Regions from separate parts of the Homo sapiens genome. Here region 2 is linked to region 1. Evidence: fine-mapped expression QTL. A gene starts in region 1. The other region holds a variant in brackets. All regions are shown on one strand. Distances are between the middles of the regions. Region 1 holds the start of SETX (senataxin). Region 2 overlaps SETX (senataxin).

What was found. PIP is the estimated chance that this variant, and not a neighbour inherited with it, causes the effect.
Region 2: its variant is fine-mapped to the expression of SETX in whole blood (TOPMed, PIP 0.93).

The regions. Positions count from the first base shown.
Region 1 is chr9:132,348,268-132,360,105 of GRCh38, forward strand. SETX (senataxin) reads right to left here and starts at 6,719. Exons shown (of 26, transcript NM_015046.7): 1 at 6,650-6,719; 2 at 5,382-5,488; 3 at 985-1,168. The coding sequence starts at 1,161. RefSeq lists enhancers at 2,926-2,975, 5,983-6,484, 6,304-7,503, 6,485-6,984 and silencers at 6,369-6,578, 6,629-7,018.
Region 2 is chr9:132,268,255-132,280,092 of GRCh38, forward strand. It overlaps SETX (senataxin), which reads right to left. Exons shown (of 26, transcript NM_015046.7): 21 at 9,816-10,003; 22 at 8,806-8,898; 23 at 7,002-7,166; 24 at 3,456-3,554; 25 at 1,361-1,448. Among named protein-coding and RNA genes, the nearest start is that of SETX, 81 kb to the right of the region's middle. RefSeq lists enhancers at 429-1,415, 1,098-2,297, 1,416-2,401 and a silencer at 1,502-1,676. The variant A/C (reference allele first, on the strand shown) is at 7,193.

The sequences.
Region 1 (11,838 bases):
AGAATCGCTTGAACCCACCTGGGAGGCAGAGGTTGAAGTGAGCCAAGATCACGCCACTGCACTCCAGCCTGGACAAGAGAGTGAGACTCTGTCTCAAAAAAAAAACAAAACAAAAAAAAAACAACCCACTAACAAAAACCCAGGCCATTCAGATACTCAGATACATGCATGTATTATAGCACTGACCAAAAAATTATGAAACAAATCCCCTCCCAATGACTTTATTTCATTAAATTATTTTATACCAATGTGACTAAAAGCAACAGATCATAAAATTCTGATCCAGGTTTCAATTCCATCCGTGATAAACATTTACTCAGCACCTAGTATATACCAGGCAATGAGTTAGGTACTTGACTTATATTAGCCTTCAAAGTCGGCCAGGCATGGTGGCTCATGCCTGTAATTCCAACACTGGGGGGCCAAACCGGAAGGATCACTTGAGCTCAGGAGTTCAGGACCAGCCTGGGCAAAATAATAAGACCTCGTCTCTACAAAAAAATTTTAAAAATTAGCAGAGCATGGTGGCACATGCCTGTAGTCCCAGCTACTCAGGAGGATGAGGTGGGAGGATGGCTTGAGTCCAGAAGGTTGAGGCTGCAGTGAACCGTGATCGCACCACTGCACTTCCAGCCTGGGCAACAGAGCAAAGACCTTGTCTCCAAAACATAGCAAAACAAACTATGAAAACCCATGTGGCCCATGGAAAATCATGAGACAGCACTTCCACTTTCAGGAATTTGTCCTAAGAATATACTCGAATGTGTAAAATGATATATGTATAATCACTCCACTGCACTCCAGCCTGAGTGACAGAGTGAGACTCCATCTCTAACAACAACAAAAACAAAACAAAAACAAAAAAAAAAACCCACAAAGTTGAAATCGTATCATCATTTCTCTGAATACTTCCAACGGAGTTCAAACTTACTCTCTTCCCAGCTATCAAGCTCTGAAAAATATTGCCCATCTAATATATTTTACCTCATGCAAGAATGGCAATTCATCTCTTGCTTTGTGGTACTCAGCCACACACTCCAAGCAGTAGCAGAGGTCTTCGTCGGCTGTTTGAAATTCACCGGACGGAGTGTTGGAAGCATAGCGCTTTAGGAAGTCAATGGTGGAAGCACCACCTGGCGTACACCAACAACATGTGCTCATTCTGTACCTACAGCCAGAAAAGATGACATCAAGAAGAAAACCAACTTCAGACCTACTGTGTGTCAAGAATAGGTACACTTTCAACTTGTGACCCTGGTTTCAATTTAAAATGTGTCACTAAAACCCAAATCTTCTGCTGGCTGGCTTATCAATCACTGATTCACTAAACTAAAAAAATCCTTCTATTTTTGACATACGAAAAATACAGAAAAATAAAAGCATTGTATAAGGAATAAGTATCATAAGGCAACATAAAGTTGTGCTACAGAGAAGGCTCAAAACAACACAGTACCGATAGAAAATATATAGAGACCCAGACTTACCAATATTTTCAAAGTACAGATTTTGGAATGGGGAAAAAAGTTACCAACTACAAACTTAAGTTCATTTCATAAACTGAATGGACCTAGCTCAGCATTCTCATCAGGAGTGATGTCACCCTCAAAGAGATCTAAAACTAGTTAGTGGGACGTGAAAAAGCCCTCCTCTTTTTAGATATAAAGCTCAGATAAACATACAGTACATAAAGAGAGACACAATATATTGGTGGTAATAAAATTCACAGGAGAGGCAGTTTTTAAAAATGTTTAAAAACTCTCCACTCAGGGAGAAAGGTTAGAAGGAGGTTAAAAAACCTAAGTAAGCTGGGAACGGTGGCTCATGCCTGTAAGCCCAGCACTTTGGGAGGCCGACGTGGGCAGACTGCTTGAGGTCCGCAGTTCGAGACCAGCCTGGCCAACATGGTGAAACCCCATCTCTACTAAAAAGAATACAAAAATTAGCTGGTGGTGCGCATCTGCAATCCTAGCTGCTTGGGAGGCTGAGGCAGGAGTACTGCCTGAACGTGGGAGGCAGAGGTTGCAGTGAGCCAAGATTGCGCCACTGCACTCCAGCCTGGGTGACAGAGTGAAACTCTGTCTCAAAACAAACAAACAAAAGAAACCTAAGTGAAGACACTGAGTATGTGGGAATGGAAACATGGCAGTGTGAGATTTTTGAGTATCACCGTCACCCTAAAATTCAGAATACATAATCTTTACCAACAGGAAATATAAAACATCTCAACAGAAACTAGGCTTGGCTGCTGAGGCTTCTGTGGCATAAAGCTAGTTCCTAAAATAAAGTGATTTTTTAAAATTCTTTAATTTCTTCTTATACCCACAATTAAATAATTATTTAGAAATGCATAAGCATAATCAAATACATTGTCATATGAATTGATTTTTTAAAATTTATTAAATATTACTTTTACTTATGCTTTTGAAGAGGTATACTTTCTTCATGGTTCTAAAAAGAATTTAGGGTAGCTTTCAACATTAAAGTACATACACACAAAAGGACATTTAAAAATGAGATTTCAAAAAACAAAATCAAAACTTCTTTAGAAGAAATTTAATTTCACTAAGTTCTACATGAGGAGCTTCCTGAAAGCAGAGAAAAAGGATAACATGAGTTACACAGTTCTCATCGACGTGGGGGGGAAAAAGAGTATGCAGTGATAGCCGCAGAGTACCGCCCTTTCCTGACACAAACTCTAACTCAATTACATTTTATTAATGCCTTCTAGTACAAGGGCACTGCAGACTAGGAAATGCCAAGTAACATGGGATAAGGTCTTCAATGTATTTCTGCAGAATTTAAAATTATTTTATTCAAAAGAAGAATTACTTATACCTAAGAGGCCAACATCACACTACTAGTAAGTTAACAGCTTGCAGAAGCTGTTTTTTTTTCCGGTAACCTAGTTTAATATGGAAAGTGAACTTAGAAGACGTAAGAACAGAAAGTGAAACTTCATGGAGGTTTCTCAAACATTTGAAGCATGATTTCAGCAGCTAACAGACTGCAGCCAATTTAAGCTTTAAAAAACTTAAGTGAGACTACCATGCAAATAAAATGTTGCATACTTCTTTTCCCACTTACCTTACTTGAAGCTCCAAATGTTGTGTACTTTAAAATAAGTACTAACAAAGGAGACAACAAAAGAAACCTTCTATTAAGAAAATTACAGAATTTGCTTTTTATTTCACTTAGAAAACTAGCCTATTTCCACAACCAAAAAAGCAAGACTAAATTTTCTCAAAATATATAGGAGTTACTACCAAAATAGGTGAGTGTCATGGCCGCTAGAAGATAACGGAGAATACTGCTGCAGAGCACACCAACAAGAGAACATGTGCTTCCATGGTTCTTCTTCAAAAGGCTGTGTGTGTGGTTTTGTCTTCAAATTTAAAATCATCACTGGCCTAATGGCTAAGCCCAGGAAACCTCAATAGGGCATATTTTGTCTTTAAGGAGAAAATTATTGCTTCTAAACTACTGTGAATCCTCTTAAGCTTTTATACAACTCAGTTCTTCTTGAGGTCTATTTTGTTAGTTTCATCAGACTGTAACGGCTTGCAATCATTAGTGAATGACAAATGGGTGTGTCCAGACAATACTCAAGTTGCAAAACCAAAATTAAAGCAACTCTCTGAGCACCCACCAAAAAGAGAGCTAATGTGTCAAAACCAAAAATATAGGATGCTTCACCATAGGTATTACTGTAATTTTCTACAGACTTATCCTTAGGCTATCCATTTCTCAACATTAACTAGCCAGAAACTTCAAATAACAATCTCTTTCTTCTACACTTCTCAGCTAAACATCTGGAAGTTTAGATTCACTACCTCCCAGCTCTTCAGCTCCTTTGCACTCTGGCTTCTACCCTTACACTCCACTGAATGTGAAGTCCCTAACAATCTTTACATTACCAATCCAATAGGTTCCTGACCTGACTCTGCTAAAGCATATGAAAATGCTGCCCATCCTTTCCTTACCTACAACACACCATTTTTTGGACACCACTTCTACCCAATCACCTTCATAATTACCCCTGCCTTTGTTACTCATATAAATGCTAAAGTTTTCGAAGGCTTGTCCTGAGAATTCTCACCTCTTCATTCAGTACTCTTTCTGGGCGGCCTACTTCAAACCACTGCTTCAACTACTGCCTAGATTGAAGCTGCCCAGACTGAGAATGTATTGTAAAACTTAATGCAGGCAGGGCGCAGTGGCTCACACCTGTAATTCCAGCACTCTGGGAGGCCGAGGCGTGAGGGATCACGAGGTCAAGAGATCAAGACCATCCTGGCCAACATGGTGAAACCCCGTATCTACTAAAAATATAAAAATTAGCTGGGCATGGTGGTATGCACCTGTAGTCGCAGCTACTGGGGAGGTTGAGTGAAATGATGCACTGTTCCACCTACTCAATAACTGACAGCCTAGCCTAGAACTCCAGATATATTCAATATCCAACTGCATACAGTGTATCTCTACTCACATATCTGACAGGCACCTCAAAGTAAACATGACCAGAACCCAACGAAGTCCTTCCCTTAAATCTGTTATTTGTTCTATATTCCCTTGTTGATGACATTACCATACATTCAATTTTCAAACCAGTAACCTAGGAATTATCCTATACGCTCCTTCTCCCTCAGCCGCAATCTCTGAGCTCCAGAGCCTACCCCTTAATTACATCTCTACTTTCTTCTCAGTGCAACCGCCACTGCCTTAGTTCAGTACATTTTCATCATTTGCCTGGATTACTGAAGAAGCCTAAATGATCTATTTCTTCTTTGATCGCCATCAATTCCTCCTCCAAAATGCTGCCAGAGGCCAAAGCCCCAAACTGGACTTCGAAAGCACAAATGACTCCTCCTCCAATGTTGGGATAAAATTCAAATTGCTGAGCTCAACACACACAAGGCCCGCGATGATCCAGCTTCCACATCATCTCTTTCCTCCACACTTACCTCCCTTGACTTGCTCTTCCTAAAACCATTCATGGTGACTGGTATTCCCTGCCTTTATGGAAGCTCTTCCACTGGCCTTGGAAACCCACCCTCCTACCTCTGCCCGGTACTTAACTGTGAATACACATCAGACTTACCTCAGGAACTTAAAAAAAAAAGTAGAAAAGATCCTATGGATAAAATTGTTTCCCTTTTAAAGAACTCCACTAAGATTCGAAGAGAAAGCTGGATTTGAGAACAACCAGTGTGCAAGCTCTTCCTGAGTGTCATCACGTCTGGGGGGGGGGCCTGTCCGACCCGTCCTCTCTTCCAGTCTATCTCTGATGACCTTCTTCTCTGTCCCTTTAGGACTCTGCACATGTTTCCATCATTGCACTTACCTTGGTGCTCTGAACTCCTGCTAAAAAAAAAAATTATTACCTGGACAAATGGCCTACAGAAAAGTGATCGTCTCAGCTGGGCTTAGTTGTGAACAAACACGGATTTGCATTCATATATGCCCAGACTCTGGCCCCAAAAGAACATTTCTGAAATTAAAAAACAAAAAACGAAATTGGTAAGTGGCATTTATACTCTATATCCCATCTGAGCCTGGTATCGATCCTATTACAGACAGATACTGCTGGCTGATGAGGAAGCCCAGATAGGTTAGACAACTTGGCTGTGGACTTCCAGGAAACAGCAGAACTGCAATTCTGACTCCCAGTTCCACAAGGGGCTGTCCCCACTCACGGGGACAGCTAGGCACCGAGCCAAAAATCCCCCAAGTTATTAGCCCGCGCAGGTAACATCAATCCTAGGATCCTCAGCTGTGTCACTTATCAAATACCACACTCGGCCTTCTCCTTGTGGAGCTCTTTTCCCTCAAGGCAGTCACCCCCGTTTCACTTGGGTCGTGCAAATTGCTGGGCACATCCTTAGATCCCCAGAAGTTGGGGAGGACGGACAAAGTCCTGTGGCCAGCAGCAAAAGCTCCAGCCCCTCCAAGTGGGAGAAACAGACTCTCCTCCAAACGAAGGGACCGGCCGGGCGCGGCGGCTCGGAGGATCCCTGGAGCAGCTGAGCTCAGCCTGGGAAACACAGCCAGGCCCTGTCTCTGCAACACATTTTGTTTTTAATTAGCCGGGCGTGGTGACGCGCGCCTATGGTCCCAGTTACTCGGGGGGATGAGGCGGAAGGATCGCTGGAGCCCAGGAAGACGAGGTTGCTGCGAGCCGTGACTGTTCCACTGCACTTCAGCCTGGGTGACAGAGCGAGACCCCGTCTCAAAAAAAAAAAAAAAAGAAAAAAGAAAAAAAAACAAAGGGAGGGACTCCAGGCGAGAGGCAGACGAGCGTGTGGAGGGAACCGACACTTTCCACCCCGAGACCTCCCGCTCAGCCCCAAGGAAACTACGCAGTATCCACACCAAAAACAGCTCACACGAGACCGCAGTGTAGACAACGGAAGGACAGGGGGTCGCAGCGGCCGGGTCCAGCGCGCAGGAAGGCAACAGGCGGCCGCCAGCCGTCGAGGGGTGCTCCCGCCCCCGCACCGAGGGAAGCGGCCGAGCCCGCGCCGACTCTTCCCCCATCCGCCCACCGGGACCTAGGCGCCGCGATGGTTCCCCGAAGCGGCCCTGCAAGCACAAGCCGCGCCTGCGCTCACGCCCGCCCGACCTACGGCCTCCAGCCCGCCGCTACCCTCACCGCTCTCTGGCTGGCGTCGGCCTCTAGCCCACCTCCATACCGGGCCCCGCTCTAGGCCACCAGCGGAAGTGCGGGCCCGCAGCCGCAGCTACCAACCAGCTGTTGCCGCGAGGTAGGCCCCGCCCCCGCGCTGAGTCGGCCGGCCGCAGGCCCCGCCCCGGCCGCTGCTTTCTGGTTTTGGTGCCCCCCAGGGGGCGGGGCATGGGAAGAGCGGCCGCGGTGCACCGCCCACGCCGGGCGCTGGCGTCACGTCCGGGCAGCTGGGGCCCGACCAATCCCGAGTCCCCGTCAGGGTGGACGGGGAGAGTTTGCCGCGGAACCTTGACCTCGGCCCCGCCCGGGGCTTCCTGCGGGTGGGGCGGCTCCGGGATGAGCTCTGCTGCGGGTGGGGTCAGCCCTTACCCGCTGGCCATTTCCGTTCCCTCTTTTTTCTTCTTTTTTCCACGCCTCAGGTGTCTCAGCGGATGTACTACGGTGACGAAGTAATTTTTCTCTTTAGATTTCCTTTAAAGACCTGAAATGTAAATTACATAAACGTGTAATTTCGGAGGAATATGTGTATATCCTTTATATTACAAGAAAGGGAGACCTTAGGTCTTGCGAACAATGCGCGCGATGCGCAACACAGCAGAGTAAATCCCTCGCTGGTGCGGTGGCTCCCGCTTCTAATCCCACCACTTTGGGAGGCCCAGGCGGGAGGCTCGCTTGAGCCCGGAGTTCAGAGACCAGCCTGTGCAACATAGCGAGACACCCGTATGTACAAAAAAAAATTAAAACTCAGCCACCGAGGCCGGGCGCGGTGGCTCACGCCTGTAATCCCAGCACTTTGGGAGGCCGAGGCGGGTGGATCACCTGAGGTCAGGAGTTCGAGACCAGCCTGACCAACATGGTGAAACTCCGTCTCTACTAAAAATAAAAAGATTACCTGGGCGTGGTGGCGGGTGCCTGTAATCCCAGCTACTCAGGAGGCTGAGGCATGAGAATGGCTTGAACCCGGGAGGCAGAGGTTGCAGTGAGCCGAGATCGCACCACTGCACTCCAGCCTGGGCAAAGGAGCGAGACTCTCTCTCCGGAAAAAAAAAAAAAAAAAAAAAAATTAGCACCTGTGGGCCCAGCTTGTTGGGAGGCTGAGGCAGGGGGTGGATATCCATTGAGACCGGGAGATCGAGACTGCAGTGAGCCGTGACTGTGCCACTACACTCCAGGCTGGGGAACAAAGCAAGACCCTGTCTCAGAAAAGTCTATAAATAAATAAAAATGAGTAAAATCCACTGGAAAGCCTATCCCCCCCCTTTTTTGTTTTTGAGATGGAGTCGCGCTCTGTCACCCAAGCTGAAGTGCAGTGGCGCAGTCTCGGCTCACTGCAACCTCCGCCTCCTGGGTTCAAATGATTCTCCTGCATCAGCCTCCCGAGTAGCTGGGAGTACAGGCGTGTGCCACACGCCCGGCTAATGTTCATGTTTTTAGTAGAGATGGGGTTTCACCATGTTGGCCAGGATGGTCTCAAACTCCAACCTCAAGTGATCCGCCCCGCCTCGACCTCCCAAAGTGCTGGGATTACAAGCGTGATCCACCGCACCCGGCCCCTACCCCCTTTTAGTAACGCCTACTACTGACCACGATGATGCAGCGTCACCGTCTTACAGTTAATAGAGGAGACAGGGAAATTAAACAATTAGTAGTGGTGACTCAGGCGATAAAAAAAGAGGCTGAGATGGGCCAGCTTGGGAAAAGTGGGTCAGATACAGCCTTACCGAGGAGAACCCTGGCCCGAGGATGAGGAGCAAGCCCAGGGGAACACTGCGGGAAAGGCCCAAGGCGAAGGAAGATTCTAGCAAGGGGGCGTGGCTTGTTGGAAGGGCGTGGTGGCCGTTATGCAAATTTAACCGTCTAAGGAGCAGCACGCGTTGACCGTTATTTTCCTCTTTTCTACTTCTTCATCCTGTCAAATATTTTGAACATATTTTGTTTTATCATATAACACTAATATACCAACACAGCCTTTATACCACCACAGTCATAAAATATAATTTTTTTTTTTTTTTGAGACGAGTCTCGCTCTGTCGCCCAGGCTGGAGTGCAGGGGCGCCATCTCGGCTCACTGCAAGCTCCGCCTCCCGGGTTCACGCCATTCTCCTGTCTCAGCCTCCCGAGTAGCTGGGACTACAGCCACGTGCCACCACGCCTGGCTAATTTTTTGTATTTTTAGTAGAGACAGGGTTTCACCGTGTTAGCCAGGATGGTCTCGATCTCCTGACCTCGTGATCCGCCCGCCTCTGCCTCCCAAAGTGCTGGGATTACAGGCTTGAGCCACCGCACCCGGCCATAAAATATAATTTTTATCATTTTTTTTAATGGAGAAAAGTGCCATGAAGGTAACTTGTGCCCAGAGCCCACAAAAGTCATAATTTCCTCCTGTCCCTGAAGCCCTCTGTAGGCCTTATCATCTTCCCACATTTTTTGTCTGTGAACAACATATAAATTTTACATGCTTTTTAACTCTGTATATGGAATTATGGAGGATGTATTTTTCTGCAAATTGCTTTTTACACTCAATGTTATGTCCTGAGACTCATTGATTCAAGGTGCATTCAGGAATTGTTGAGCCCAAAACTTACACAACCTATAGAATGTTAAACAGAAGCACTGCAATAGACTTTGTAAATATAAAATTAGAAATGAAAATTAATACTTATTTGGAATGAATAAATAAGTACAAATTACAAACTTCTAAAGCTGATAAAACCATAAACATGGCCAGGCGCAATGGCTCAGGCCTGTAATCCCAGCACTTTGGGAAGCTGAGGTGGGCAGATCACCTGAGGTCAGGAGTTCAAGACCAGCCTAGCCAACATGGTGAAACCCGGTCTCTACTAAAAATACAAAAATTAGCCAGGCTTAGTGGTGCATGCCCGTAGTTCCAGCTACTTGGGAGGCTGAGACAGGAGAATGGCTTGAACCCGAGAGGCGAGGCGACAGAGTGAGACCTCATCTCCAAAAATAAATAAATAAATAAATAAATAAATAAATAAATAAATAAATAAATAAATAAAAAGACTGGGAAGTATGAGGCCTCCAGTATCGTTCTTTTTCAAAATTGTTTTAGCTACTTAAGGTCCCTTGCTATTCCATGTGAATATTTAGAATTGGCTTGTCCCGTTTCTGCAAATAAATAAGTACAAGCAGTTGGAATTTTTATAGGGATTGAATTGTATTTTTAGATACATCTGGGGAATCAATTGACACCTTAACAATATTAAGTATAGCAGGTTCTCTAATAAGATCATTTTGTTCAATGTGGTTTTGTTATAACATTGATGAGAAAAAAAAAATCCATTCCTGCTCAAGGCTTTTTTTTGAGACGGAATCTCCCTCTGTAGCCCAGGCTCTGGAGTGCAGTGATGCGATCTTGGCTCACTGCAAGCTCCGCCTCCCAGGTTTCGGTTCAAGCAATTCTCCTGCCTCAGCCTCCTGAGTAGCTGGGATTATAGGCACGCACCACCACGCCCAGCTAATTTTTGTATTTTTAGTAGACACGGAGTTTCAGCATGTTGCCCAGGCTGGTCTTGAACTCCTGACCTCGTGATCCGCCTGCCTCAGCCTCCCAAAGTGCTGGGATTACAGGTGTGAGCCACCGTGCCTGGCCCCGAGGCCACTTTGTGTGTGGAGTTTGCCCCTTCTCCCCATGTCTGTGTGGGTTTCCTCCAGGTACTCCAATTTCCTTCCCGATTCCAAAGATGTGCCAGTTAGGTTGATTGGCATGTCTACATTGTCCTAGCCTGAGTGAGCATGGGTGTGTGTGTGAGTGTATACCCTGCAAAGGGATGGCATCTTGTCCAGAGTTGGCACCCACCTGGCACCAGGAAAGATTCTGGCCATCCGCGATCCTGAACTGGAATGAGTGGGTAGATTATTACCTTGTTAATCTTATTAATAAAGATTAGTCTTTTATTAATCTTTCTTGAATGTATAGCCTACATTTATTTCAATGTTTAATATTAGAAGTGTTTTGTGTGTTTACTTAGAAGTTTGGTCAGAATAACTGGCTTTTATGAGACAAGTCAGAACTTGTGGCTCAGAAGACAAACCCCACACACATTCAAGTGGATGAAAACAAGCCCCCTACAAGGGCTCTATCCTCCTCCTCCTCCTAGTTGTTCTTTAGTTTCAGAACCTGTTTGATGTGTTTTTTTAATCCTATATATATTTTACGGTTGTGACTTATCCATTGTTTGATTTTTGTACAAGAAAATCTTTGCTATAGAAATCAGTATACTATTTTTATCTGGAGAGAAGATATTATGGCAACTTAAACTGTGGTCAGATGTTAGAGAAAAATGTATAAATGCCTTCTTGCCATGCTATCAGTCATATTACATTCATTTTATATTGACTGACAATATCAAAAGTTTCTTTTTTTGTTTGTGTAAACTCTAATTTCTATCAAGGTGTAATGAATATTTAAAGTTGGTTTTTCATTACAAATCTCTCAGTGTTGGTTAACTGATTTTTGCCAGGACCATTATGCATTAAGCAAACAAATTCCACAGCCATTTGGGGGTAAAAGAGTAGGTTACTGATTTGAGATATTTCTTCTTTTTTAATGTAGGTGTCTACAGCTATAATTTGTCCTTGGAACACTGCTTTTGCTACATCCCATAGATTTTGGTATGTTGTATTTTTGTGTTCATTTGTCTCAAAGTATTTTATTTTATCTATTTATTTATTTTTGAGACAGAATCATTCTCTGTTGCCCTGGGTGAAGTGCAGTGGCATGATCACAGCTCACTATAGCCTTGATATCCAGGGCTCAAGCGATCCTCCTACCTCAGCATCCCAAGTAGCTGGGACTATAGGCAAATGCCACCATGCCTGGCTGATTTTTTCTTTTTTTTTTAGTAGAGACAAGGTCTTGCTATGTTGCCCAAGCTGGCCTCGAACTCCTGAGCTCAAGCAGTTCTCCCACCTCGGCTTACCAAAGTGCTGGGATTACAGGTGTGAGACACCACACCCAGCCCAAAGTGTTTAACTTCCCTTTTGATTTCTTCTTTGACTCATTGGTTGTTTTAGAGCATGTTGTTTAATTTCCACATATTTTTGAATTTTTTTGTCTTCCTTCTGTTATTTGCAGTTTCATTCTATTGTGGTCAGCGCATATACTTTTCATGATTTCAACCTTTTTAAATGTA
Region 2 (11,838 bases), 80 kb before region 1:
GTGATAAAAATCAACTTTTTAGGCCGAGGTGGGATGACTTTAGCCCAGGAGTTTGAGACCAGCCTGGACAACATGGTAAGACCCTTTCTCTACTAAAAGTACAAAAATTAGGTACATGCGCCTATAGTCTCAGCTACTCAGGAGGCTGAGGTGGGAGAACGGCTTAAATCCAGGAGGCGGAGGCTGCAGTGAGCTGTGATTGTGCCACTGCACTCCCGCCAGGGGAAAACAACTTTTTAAACTTTCAAGTTATACAGAAATTTTTGTGAGAGAGGTGTAGATCAGTGAGATTAACTTAAAGGCTTTTAATTCTAAAAAGAGATTACCCCAGTGAATCTTAGCCTAAACAAGCAGGAATGGAAGTACAATTTCAAAGAGAGGAAAAAATAAAATAATATTGCTTTCTATTCCACTGGATATATTTAAGAGTGATGTAATAATTTTAATTGCTGTATTTTAAAATGTCAATATTGATAATACATCAGAAGCATAATCTTCAGTAATATTTAAACTTACAAAGATTTTTTCTATCAACTTAAAAATAGGAGGTACATAAAAATAAACGGTACACAGCTTTTAAAACTTCCTTCAGAGCAGGCACACAGACGACAAAGGCTGGAGGTGATAGAGGAGTGAAACAAGAAAGAAGGTGTATCTGAGCGCCACCTGGTGGCAGGAACCAAAACCAGGGGAAACAGCCACCAAGTTGGCTCTTCTTAGATGAAATCAATGACTTCATAAAAAAGAGAAATGAGGAAAACTACAAAGTTATTACCCCTAATAAGACAAACAGCAAATACGTGCTACATCTAGCTGTGATATCAGTGAATTAAGCTGTACCATTTGTCTACTGAAGTTGGAAACTCGTACACCTCTTCCAGAGGGGCGCCTGTCCTGGCAGAAGAATGCCGGAGGCGCTAAGTGCTGGAGAAACAGAGTGAGCAGCACAGCTCCCAGTGCCAGCAGAAAAGCAGAGCAGAGCACGCGCCTGCAAACTCTCTCTGGCATTAAGCTGGGCCAATAACAGCCACATTTACTGAGTGTTTACTAAGTGCCAAGCAATTGCTTTGGCACTTTACATCTGTGGGTTTAATATACCTTCTTAACAATAATCCTATGATGTGGATAATTTGTTTTAAAATGGTCACCTTGAGAGCCCAGTGTAGATACTTGGGTTCTGGGCTGAAAAAAGGCGAATGGTTCACGTGTACACAAAAGCTCCTAGGAAGAAGTTGCTGGAAAACATAACAACCATTATTTTGTAATCCAGAAATCATTTACACTTTGATGGAAAATAAGAACAAAAACTCAATCCAACAACAGTAACAATGGGTAAACTTCTGAGCTCTCTGGTACCTACCATCAGGGTCCTCAAATGTCCGAGGATGAAGAGGCTGTACTTGGCTCGTGTGATGGTGACATTCAATCTCTGCAAACTTGCCAGGAATCTAGGCAATAAAAAAAGAGTTCCTTCTTTGTCTAGAATGACTTAACATGCCCATGTGAGACAAAGGTGGACTCTAGAATGACTCAACGTGCCCGTGTCTGACAGAGGTGGAATCTTGAATGACTCAGTGAGCCCGAGACACAGGTGGACTCTAGAATGACTCAGCGTGCCCGTGTGAGACACAGGTGGATTCTAGAATGACTCAGCATCCTCATGTGAGACACAGGTGGACTCTAGAATGACTCAGCGTGCCCGTGTGAGACACAGGTGGACTCTAGAATGACTCAGCATCCTCATGTGAGACACAGGTGGACTCTAGAATGACTCAGCGTGCCCGTGTGAGACACAGGTGGACTCTAGAATGACTCAGCATCCTCATGTGAGACACAGGTGGACTCTAGAATGACTCAGCGTGCCCGTGTGAGACACAGGTGGACTCTAGAATGACTCAGCATCCTCATGTGAGACACAGGTGGACTCTAGAATGACTCAGCGTGCCCATGTGAGACACAGGTGGACTCTACAATGACTCAGTATGCCCATGTGAGACACAGGTGGACTCTAGAATGACTCAGCGTGCCCATGTGAGACACAGGTAGACTCTAGAATGACTCAGCGTGCCCGTGTGAGACACAGGTGGACTCTAGACTCAGCATGCCCATGTGAGACACAGATGGACTCTAGAATGACTCAGCATGCCAGTGAGACACAGGTGAACTCTAGAATGACTCAGCATGCCCATGTGAGACACAGGTGGACTGCAGGCAGCTTTTCCGGGACTCCTTCACTCCTCTAGAAGTCACAGTGCTTTCTTACTCTCCGTCCCAATACAGGGTACCGGGCACAGAAGAATTCCTATTAAAAACAGGAAACAAACCAAAACCTCGGGGCTTCCTTCAAAGTGATGCATCTATCAATTTCCTATTTTTACCTGGATAAGATAATTGGAAATTTTAACAGTGCAATCTTGAAGCCTTGAAAAATCCTAAAAATGTGGTACCAGCCTAATCACTTTATTCTTACATTTAAATATATCTAGACTGTTAAGATATTGTAGAACTAGTGTAGAAATACATGAACACCAGATAAATATTTCAGTAGATCAGAAAAAGAGCTCAGAAATAGAATTGATGTATGATAAAAGTGAAATTTCAAATTAGCTGGGAAAGAAAGGTCTATTTATAAACTGACCCTGAGATACAACTGGGCTCTGTATATGCAGCCCATCCCAGGGAGGGGCAAAGATTACTTTAATTACTATTTTATTTGAAAACGAACTAATTTATAACCTGTAAATTCTGTCTGCTTCTCATGACAAGAAACAAATAATCATGTAAGAGTCTTGGGCTTGGGATATTTTCTGTCACTCATACAGGTGTCCTTAGCATCTTAAATAAACTGACAGTAGTTAAGGTGAACAAATTTAGCCAAAGCAGGAAAACACAGAAAACAATGACACTTTGACACATACCATGGGGAGTAATATGCCTCTGCAAAGTATAATCTAATTATTTATTTGAATCTTATTAAATAAAAGAACAGATTCACACTATGAAATGGGTTAATATAAAAGACACCAAGGCCGGGCGCAGTGACTCACGCCTGTAATCCCAGCATTTTGGGAGGCCAAAGTGGGTGGAGCACTTGAGCTCAGGAGTTTGAGACCAGCCTGGGCAACCTGGCAAAACACTGTCTCTACAGAAAAATACAAAAATTAGCTGGGCGTGGTAGCACATGCCTGTAGTCCCAGCTACTCGGGAGGCTGATGCAGAAGAATCGCTTGAACCCAGGAGGTGGAGGATGCAGTGGGCCAAGATTGCACCAAGATCTAACAGTGGGTCTATTTCACAACTTAAAAGAGAAACTTTCATAGTATTACACAGGTTTTCACAAAAGAAAATTAAAAAAGCAAATGGTGTTCTCTAACAGTGATAATGAACCTAATCCTGAACTATAAACAAGCAACAATGTATACAAGTATAAAAGAGCAACAATGACAGTAACTCACCCAATTGAACCTTGGATGCTATTTGCTCTGACACACGTAACAATAACACAATCCTTCTGCCGACCCTGGAATGCATCCACAGTGTCTACTTCTGCTGGTCTATTTACAAAAGAGAAACATATTTACTGGAAAAAGGAAGATAATTATTAAGTATACATATTTATAAACTAGTTTTTTGGTTTTTTTTTTTTGAGACGGAGTCTCACTCTGTCGCCCAGGCTGGAGTGCAGTGGCGCGATCTCAGTTCACTGCAAGCTCTGCCTCCCGGGTTCACGCCATTCTCCTGCCTCAGCCTCCTGAGTAGCTGGGACTACAGGTGCCCGCCACCATGCCCAGCTAATTTTTTGTATTTTTAGTAGAGACTGGGTTTCACTGTGGTCTCCATCTCCTGACCTCATGATCCGCCCGCCTCGGCCTCCCAAAGTGCTGGGATTACAGGCGTGAGCCACCGCGTCCGGCTTAGTTTTTTGGTTTTTGACAGTCTAGCCTCACTCTTGTCCAGGCTGGAGTGCACCAGCATATTCATAGCTCACAGTAACTTGAACACCTGAGCTCCGTCTCAGCCTCCTAAGTGGCTAGGACTACAGGCATGGACCACCACCCTAATTTTTCCATGTTTTGTAGAGATGGGGTCTTGCCATGTTGCCCAGGCTGGTCTCAAACCCCTGGCCCCAAGCAATCCTTCCACCTCACCCACCCAAAATGTTAGGATTATAGATGTGAGCCACCATGCCTGGCCTTACAGTCTTTATTTTTAAAGAAACTTAAAAAAAAAAAGAGAGAGAGAGAGAGACAGAGTCTCACTGCGTTGCCCAGGCTGGACTCAAACTTCTGGGGCTCAAGCAATCCTCCTTGCCTCAGCCTCCCAAGGAGATGCATGCACCACCATGCTCGGCTGCTAAGACATTTTAAAAACATTTTCTTGGAGGTTAGCCTGAATTTCCTCCTCTCTCCATTCCCTGGCAACCACTAATACACTTCCTGTCTCTACAGATTTTCTTATACTGTGAGTTTCACATAAATGGAATTACAAAATGTGATTATTTGTGACTGTTCCCTTAGCATAACATTTCCAAAGTTCATCCATGTTGTAGCATGTAACAGAACTTCATCCCTTTCTTCATTAATATTTCATTGTACCACATAGTACAAGTTATTTACTTAGTGTTAAGGTGGCAGCGCTCCCCAAATTGATCTACAGATGTAATCCAACTGCCTTTTTTACAGAAATGGTCACGCTGATACTAAGTCTTTGGCTGGGCATGGTAGCTCATGTCTGTAATCCAAGCACTTTGGGAAGACTGTGTGAACTCAGGAGTTTGAGAACAGCCTGGGCAACTTAGGAAGACCTTGTCTCTACTAAAAATGAAAAAACACACAAAAAATGCAAAAAACAACACAACACTAAGTCTTCCAGTCCATGAAAACAGGATGTCTTCACATTTATTTAGGTGGTTTTTTTTTTGTTTTGAGATGGAATTTCGCTCTCGTCGCCCAGGCTGGAGTGCAATGGAGTGATCTCAGCTCACTGCAACCTCTGCTTCCCGGGTTCAAGTGATTCTCCTGCCTCACCCTCCAGAGTAGTTGGGATTACAGGCGTGTGCCACCATGCCCAACTGATTTTTGTATAATTAGTAGAGACAAGATTTTACCATGTTGGCCAGGCTGGTCTTGAACTCCTGACCTCAGGTGATCCACCCACCTGGGCCTCCCAAAGTGCTGGGATTACAGGCATGAGCCACTGCACCCGGCCTATTTAGGTGTTCTTTAATTCCTTTCAACAACGTTTTGCAGTTTTCAGCGTACAAGTCTTATACTTCTTTGGTTCTATTTATTCCGAAGTGTTTTATTCTTTTTGATGCTATTGTAAATGGAATTGTTTCAACTTCCTTTTCAGATTGTTCATTGCTAGTTGCATCAAAATATAATCAACTTTCACATATTAATCTTGTATCCTGCTAAGCTTATTATCTCTAATAGTGCCTTTGAATGGCTTTGTTAGGGTTTCTAGAAATAAGATCATGCCACCTATGAAGAGAGAGTTTTACTTTTTTCTTTCCAGTAAAGATGCTTTTTATTTATTTTCCTTACTTAACTGCTCTGGCTAAAACCTCTAGTACAATGTTGAAAAAAAGCATTAAGAGTTTCAAACATCTCTCCTGATCTTAGAGGAAAGGCTTTCATTCTTACCATGAAGTATAACGTTAGCTATGAGTTTTTTGTAAATGCCTTTTATTAATAAAAAAAGTTCCTTTGTATTCTTTTTTTTTTTTTAAATCATCAAAGCATTTTGGGTTCCGTGCAACTTTTTTTTGTATCTACTGAGCTGATTATGTGGGTCTCCTCATTCTTCTAATATGGTATATCATATTGATTTTCATATGTTGAAGCAATCTTGCATTCCTGGGATAAATCCCACTTGGTCTTGATGTATAAATCCTTGTAATAACCTGCTGAATTCAGTTTGTCACTATTTTGTTGAGGATTTTTGTATCTAGTCATAAAGGATTTGGATCTGTAGTTTTCTTGTGATACTTTCCCTTGGCTTTGGTATCAGTGTAATACTGGCTTCAAAAAATGAATCTGAGTGTTCTATTTATTGGAAGCATGTGAGAATGACTTGTGTTCATTCTTCTTTTAATATTTGATAGAATTCACCAGCTTAGCTTGGTTCTGGGCTTTTCATTATTGGGAAATGTTTCATTATTTGTTATAAAGGTCTGATTTTTTCTTTTTTTTTTTTTTTTGAGATGGAGTCTCGCTCTGTCACCCAGGCTGGAGTGATGCAGTGGGGCAATCTCAGCTCACTGCAGCCTCCGCCTCCTGGGTTCAAGCGATTTACCTACCTCAGCCTTCCGAGTAGCAGGGACTACGGGAGCGCGCCACCACGCCTGGCTAATTTTTGTATTTTTTTTCAGTAGAGATGGGGTTTCACCATGTTGCCCAGGCTGGTCTCAACCTCCTGACCTCAGGTGATCTGCCCGCCTCAGCCTCCCAAAGTGCTGGGATTACAGGTGTGAGCCACCACACCCAGCCTACAGGTCTGATTTTCTATTGTTTTCTAGATTCGATTTTGGTAGTCTGTGTGCTTCTAAGTTAAGATGATTTTAAGGTTATGGATCTCCAATATTTAATCTTTAATTTTACTGCTGAGGTAAGAAGGAAACAAAAACATGATTTTCATTCTATACATAAAGGCAATACAAGGGTTAAATCATTTATTTAAAGTGAAATGTTACTTTTAGTCTTGCTAGAACAAGAATTCAGATGAACAAGTCATGGAACTAAAAGGTAAAGACCTGGCAAGTTTCTTAGTCAATTCCACTGCCAAGGAGAATGTTGACATTCCAACTGCCAGGAAGTAACCTGTCTACCCAGGAGCCACACAGCACAAGTCTATGAAAGCCAGCAGCATCCCAGCTTCCTCGTGCCGTATCACCAATTTGCACAGACCACTCCTTAAGAGTTTCCCTTTTCTTCTTTCCTTCTATATCCTCTCATTCTAATTCAACAAGAAAATTGGAAATATTTATAAAAATGCCTCACCCTTTTCTATCGAACTCTTTGTCCAAATCCTTCTGAATCATCGTCTTCTGGGCCTTGTAATGAGTTATTATGCCAATGTTTCGAAAACTAACATCCTTTCTTTTGTCTTTAATAAGCTTAATTATTTCCATCACCAGTTTTATTTCTTGAACATTTATATATGAGCTAAACAAGATGGAAAAAGAAAACAC[A/C]GTGTTATCAAAACTAATAGCAGGCTAATTGCTAACTTAAGTTCCACTGAGTTTGTTTCCCATTATAGTAAAGGGCAGGCAGATAGGCTTCATCTTTTATTCAGCTAGCAGTGACTCCAAGAGGCTGTTACAATGACCATTAATATGGTATATATGAATAAATGTGAAAATACTATGGTAAATATGAATACATGTGAAATGCCCAGTGAAAAATGAAGTTGTAGAGAGAAAAGAGTTTGAAATCAACTGAAGTTTAGGCACCACTTTCTTCATCTGTTGAAACAGGGAGAGCAGTATTAAGAACAGCAGTATTAATAAGAACAAAGATGTGAATAAGAGATAGCTAACATGAATTAAGGATTAACTATCTTCCGAACACTGAGAAAATGCTTTACATGTATGATCTTCCTTGTCCCTCACCACTGGCTGCATACAACACACACCACACAACCGAGCAGCTGCCATCCACACAGACTCAATGTGAAGGATGTGTCCCACTTGACCCCAGTTGAACAACATGGGGCCCTGGAGCAGGTTCATGTCCTCTTTGTAGTCCTCAGCAGCCTCATATCCTGCACTCTCAACCCCTCCTGAAAACACATGCTCCCTCATGACCATACCGGACCCAAAATGCACCAAGACCAGGGGATGCACTGCCCCATCCCTTGATTCCTGAGGCTACCTTACCCGCCTTGCTTTACGAGCCTTAAATACCCATTCTCCTAACTTTGAGACTTACTAAATGGACAACCCAATCAGCTAGCGATCTCTTCCATCCCTGAAATCCTCATGATGCTCTGCGGCTTAACTCGCAATCCTCTGCTCTCCTCCAAGAGGCCTCATTAAAACCTTTAGGCTGCAGTCCCTCCAGCACTACAATCCCATGGCCAACAACTCCTCTGTATGTGTAACCTCTTCAATGAGTGTTCCCTACTTCCACCTCTGTATCTTATCTAACGCCTGATTCTCGCCTGAGGACGCCACCTGCTCTGCAGCCATCCCATGATGTAGAAGTGGGATTTGTGTTTCCTCCTACTTCATGACAGAGTGGCACTTGTATCCGTGCCAACAAATGCTGCCCCTAGACCATTCCTCCCCTACTCTCTCACAAGAATCCCCAGCTCCTCTGACATTGCTGCTTCTAGCAACACCACTCCTCTTTGCTGTCATATACAGACCACCTGAACACATGCCCTTATTCACAACCCAATACCATCCAACCTCTGTCACTACTTCCTTCCTCCCTTTCACATTTTCATTCAACTGAATTTATACTTAGCCTTCACAGTACTTAACCCAACTGGAATAACTGCTTACCCAGGTGATGACCTGCTGAAGGCCTGTCTTCCCATGAGACCACCATCTTGCAATGGGCACGTCTGTTTCCCTCACTGCTGTGAGCTCAACAAGTATCTACTCAAGCACTTGCTTATGACATTAGGTAATATTATCCCCATTATACAGAAAAAAGAAGCATCAACTTAAGTGAACATGACTGTGCCCTGACACTAGGCAGAGAGATGTGTATAGGAAATGTATTTAACAGAAATATGAATGCAAATCATGTAACAATTCTGGGACTATCAGAGGACTGAGGCAAGAGGAAAACATACTCATTATCCCGTCTTTCTGAACCATCTCCAACATCAAACACAAGGTATGGCTGAAATGGCCAATCTGATGAACATCGAATGGCTTCTGTCTGTCTGTAAAAAAAAAAAAGCAGTCAACATTCAGAATAAAGTCAAGATTTAAGAAAATATCTTGGTATTACTACAATTTTTTCTGTGTGGTGATGTGGGCTGGGGCAAGTAAGGGGATAGCAGGAATATTCTTTTCTAGACGTGTATTAGTGAAAGGTACAAAACAAATTCTATTTCTTTCCTGGTGCTGGGAGAGGTGTCTATATCATTAAAATATAACAAGTATGATTGGAAAGACACTCATAATAGAGTAAGCCACAGAATACTATGTTAAGTATGGTCCCACATTTTTCCTTCAAAAATTTAAAAAGTAAAAAAAGATATGCATAGTAAAAGGACTGAAACTTGGCCAGGTGCGGTGACTCTCGCCTGTAATCCCAGCACTTTGGGAGACCAAGGCGGGTGGATTGCTTGAGCTCAGGAGTTCGAAAGCAGCCTGGGCAACATAGCGAAACCCCGTTTCTACAAAAAGAAAAATACAAAAATTAGCCAGGCATGGTGGTGACTGAGTGTAGTCCCAGCTACTCAGGAGGCTGAGGCAGGTGGATTGATTGAGCCTGGGAGGTCGAAGCTGCAGTGAGCCAGGACTGTGTGCCACTGCACTCATCCTGTGTGAGTGACAGAATGAGACCCTGTCTTCAAAAAAAAAAAAAAAAAAAAAAAGGACTGCTGAAAGTGGATATACCAAAATGTTACCAGTGATTATTTCTGGGTAGTATAAATATAGGTGACTTTTTCCCCTTTTCTTTTTTATGTGCTTTGCTGTATTCAACATGATGGCTATTATAACAGGACAAAATTATTAACCCTTCATGATTTATGCTTTTTATGACAAGACCTAAGACGACAGTAAAATGTCTATTCTTCATAAGTAGCTAAACTACAACAAAATAAGGTCACAAACAATAAGGGGAACTCACCTATTTGTTTTTAAGTTTCTGTTATAAACATAATTAGAAGGGAAGAGGCATATGTCTGGATGCATCCTGTACTGAACAGTGAGCTGTAGAATGGGCAGCCTGCTGATCATGTTGTGTTCTACATTCTCTTCCAGCAGTCTGCAGAAGCGAGCCATCATTGACTGGTCGTAGCCATACTCCTGTGCTTTCTGTGAGGGGCAAAATAAAGCAACAGTTTCCAAGAATTCATTTATATCTTTCCCACTATTATAAACACAATTACTGAGATCTAATACGTATATGGCAACGTTCAGGTAGCATAAGATTACCAACCACAGCTTCAGAGAAAAAAGGTGTTTCTGACTCTGAGCCTCAAAATGCCATGAATCTTTTTTTTTTTTTTTTTTTTTTTTTTTTTTTTTTGGAGACACAGTCTCGCTCTGTCACCCAGGCTGGAGTGCAGTGGCGTGATCTCAGCTCACTGCATCCTTCACCTCCCAGGTTCAAGCGATTCTCATGTCTCTGGCCTCCTGAGTAGCTGGGATAACAGGAATGAGCCACCACACCTGGCCAAAATGCCATGAATCTTGAATATATGTGGAGGTCTTTTCTACTCATATACTGCTAATGAAAGAGATATGATCTTGTGAAAGACAACTGATGCTATTTTGATGCTACAAGACGCCACCCAAAAAAACCAGTAATAAAGGAAATGTAACACAGATTTTAACAATTATTTCTGGGGGTACACCCTCACAGACAGACATATTGAATGCCACTGTAAACAAGCCTTTTGAAGACAAAATTCTTCATTCATCCATCTAATATGTACTAAGCATCTATAATTTGAAGTGCTAAGACCACTAGAGTGAATAAGATGAAGTCTCACAGGACTTAATTTCCAGTGAAGGAAACAGACTCGACTTATGTGTTGACCATCCCTAATCCAAAAATCCAAAATACTCCAATGAGCATATCCTTCGAGCGTGAACTTTAAGCATAAAGTCAGCACTTGGGAAGTTTCAGATGGTGAAGCATTTCAAATTTTTGAATTAGGAACGCCGAAGCTGTGCTAAATGGATTTCACAAACCAAATAATGGGTTATATTCTGCAATCTGAAAAACAGTGACCTAAGTGACAAGTGGGATAAACTGTCTTGATGTTACCACAGTTGTGCCTTGGGATCTACTTTCCGATGGCAGCAACACAGAAAGTTTCAAAAAGGGGAGGGGGAGGGATAGCATTAGGAGATACACCTAATGTAAATGACGAGTTAATGGGTGCAGCACACCAACATGGCACATGTATACATATGTAACAAACCTGCATGTTGTGAACATGTACCCTAGAACTTAAAGTATAATTAAAAAAGAAAAGTTTCAAAAAGTACTTTATCTTAAATAACCCTGAAGTAAAAATGTGCTGAAAACTTCACTAAGATGATGGAATCTTCATGAGTGATGTGAAAGATACTGGCACTGAAGACGTGCAAAGCCTGAATAAACTTGTTTCACAAACTATGGGAGTGGAAGAAAGGCATTACTTCTTAACCTATTTATATGTGTGATTTTAAACAGGTTTGTGAAAGCATAAAATAATTATTAATAGATACATGCCAATTTTCCCTAAATCCTCAAAAGTTTATCTGCGTTAGCTCACAAAACCTAATTTTTAATCTTTTCTTTGGGGAAACAGAAAAGGAAGTTATGTAAGGTAACGCATCTACCTCCAGACAAAACCTTAGTCCATTCTACAAATGACATAGATTTATTAATATATATTCTGACATGGGAGGATGTCCCTGATTTACTGATTGAAAAAAAAACCAATTCTGCACAGAATGATTTTGCCACCTTTAAACAAAACCAAACCCACGTACATATACACATAAACATATACATGTATACAAACCATATACCACTTTTTAGTAACTGACTCACTGTTAACCCCTAGAATACAAACACCATAAGGGCAGGGATTTTGTCTGTTTTCTTCACTGTCATAACCCCAGCCCCTAAACAGTGCCTGAATTATGGTGGCACT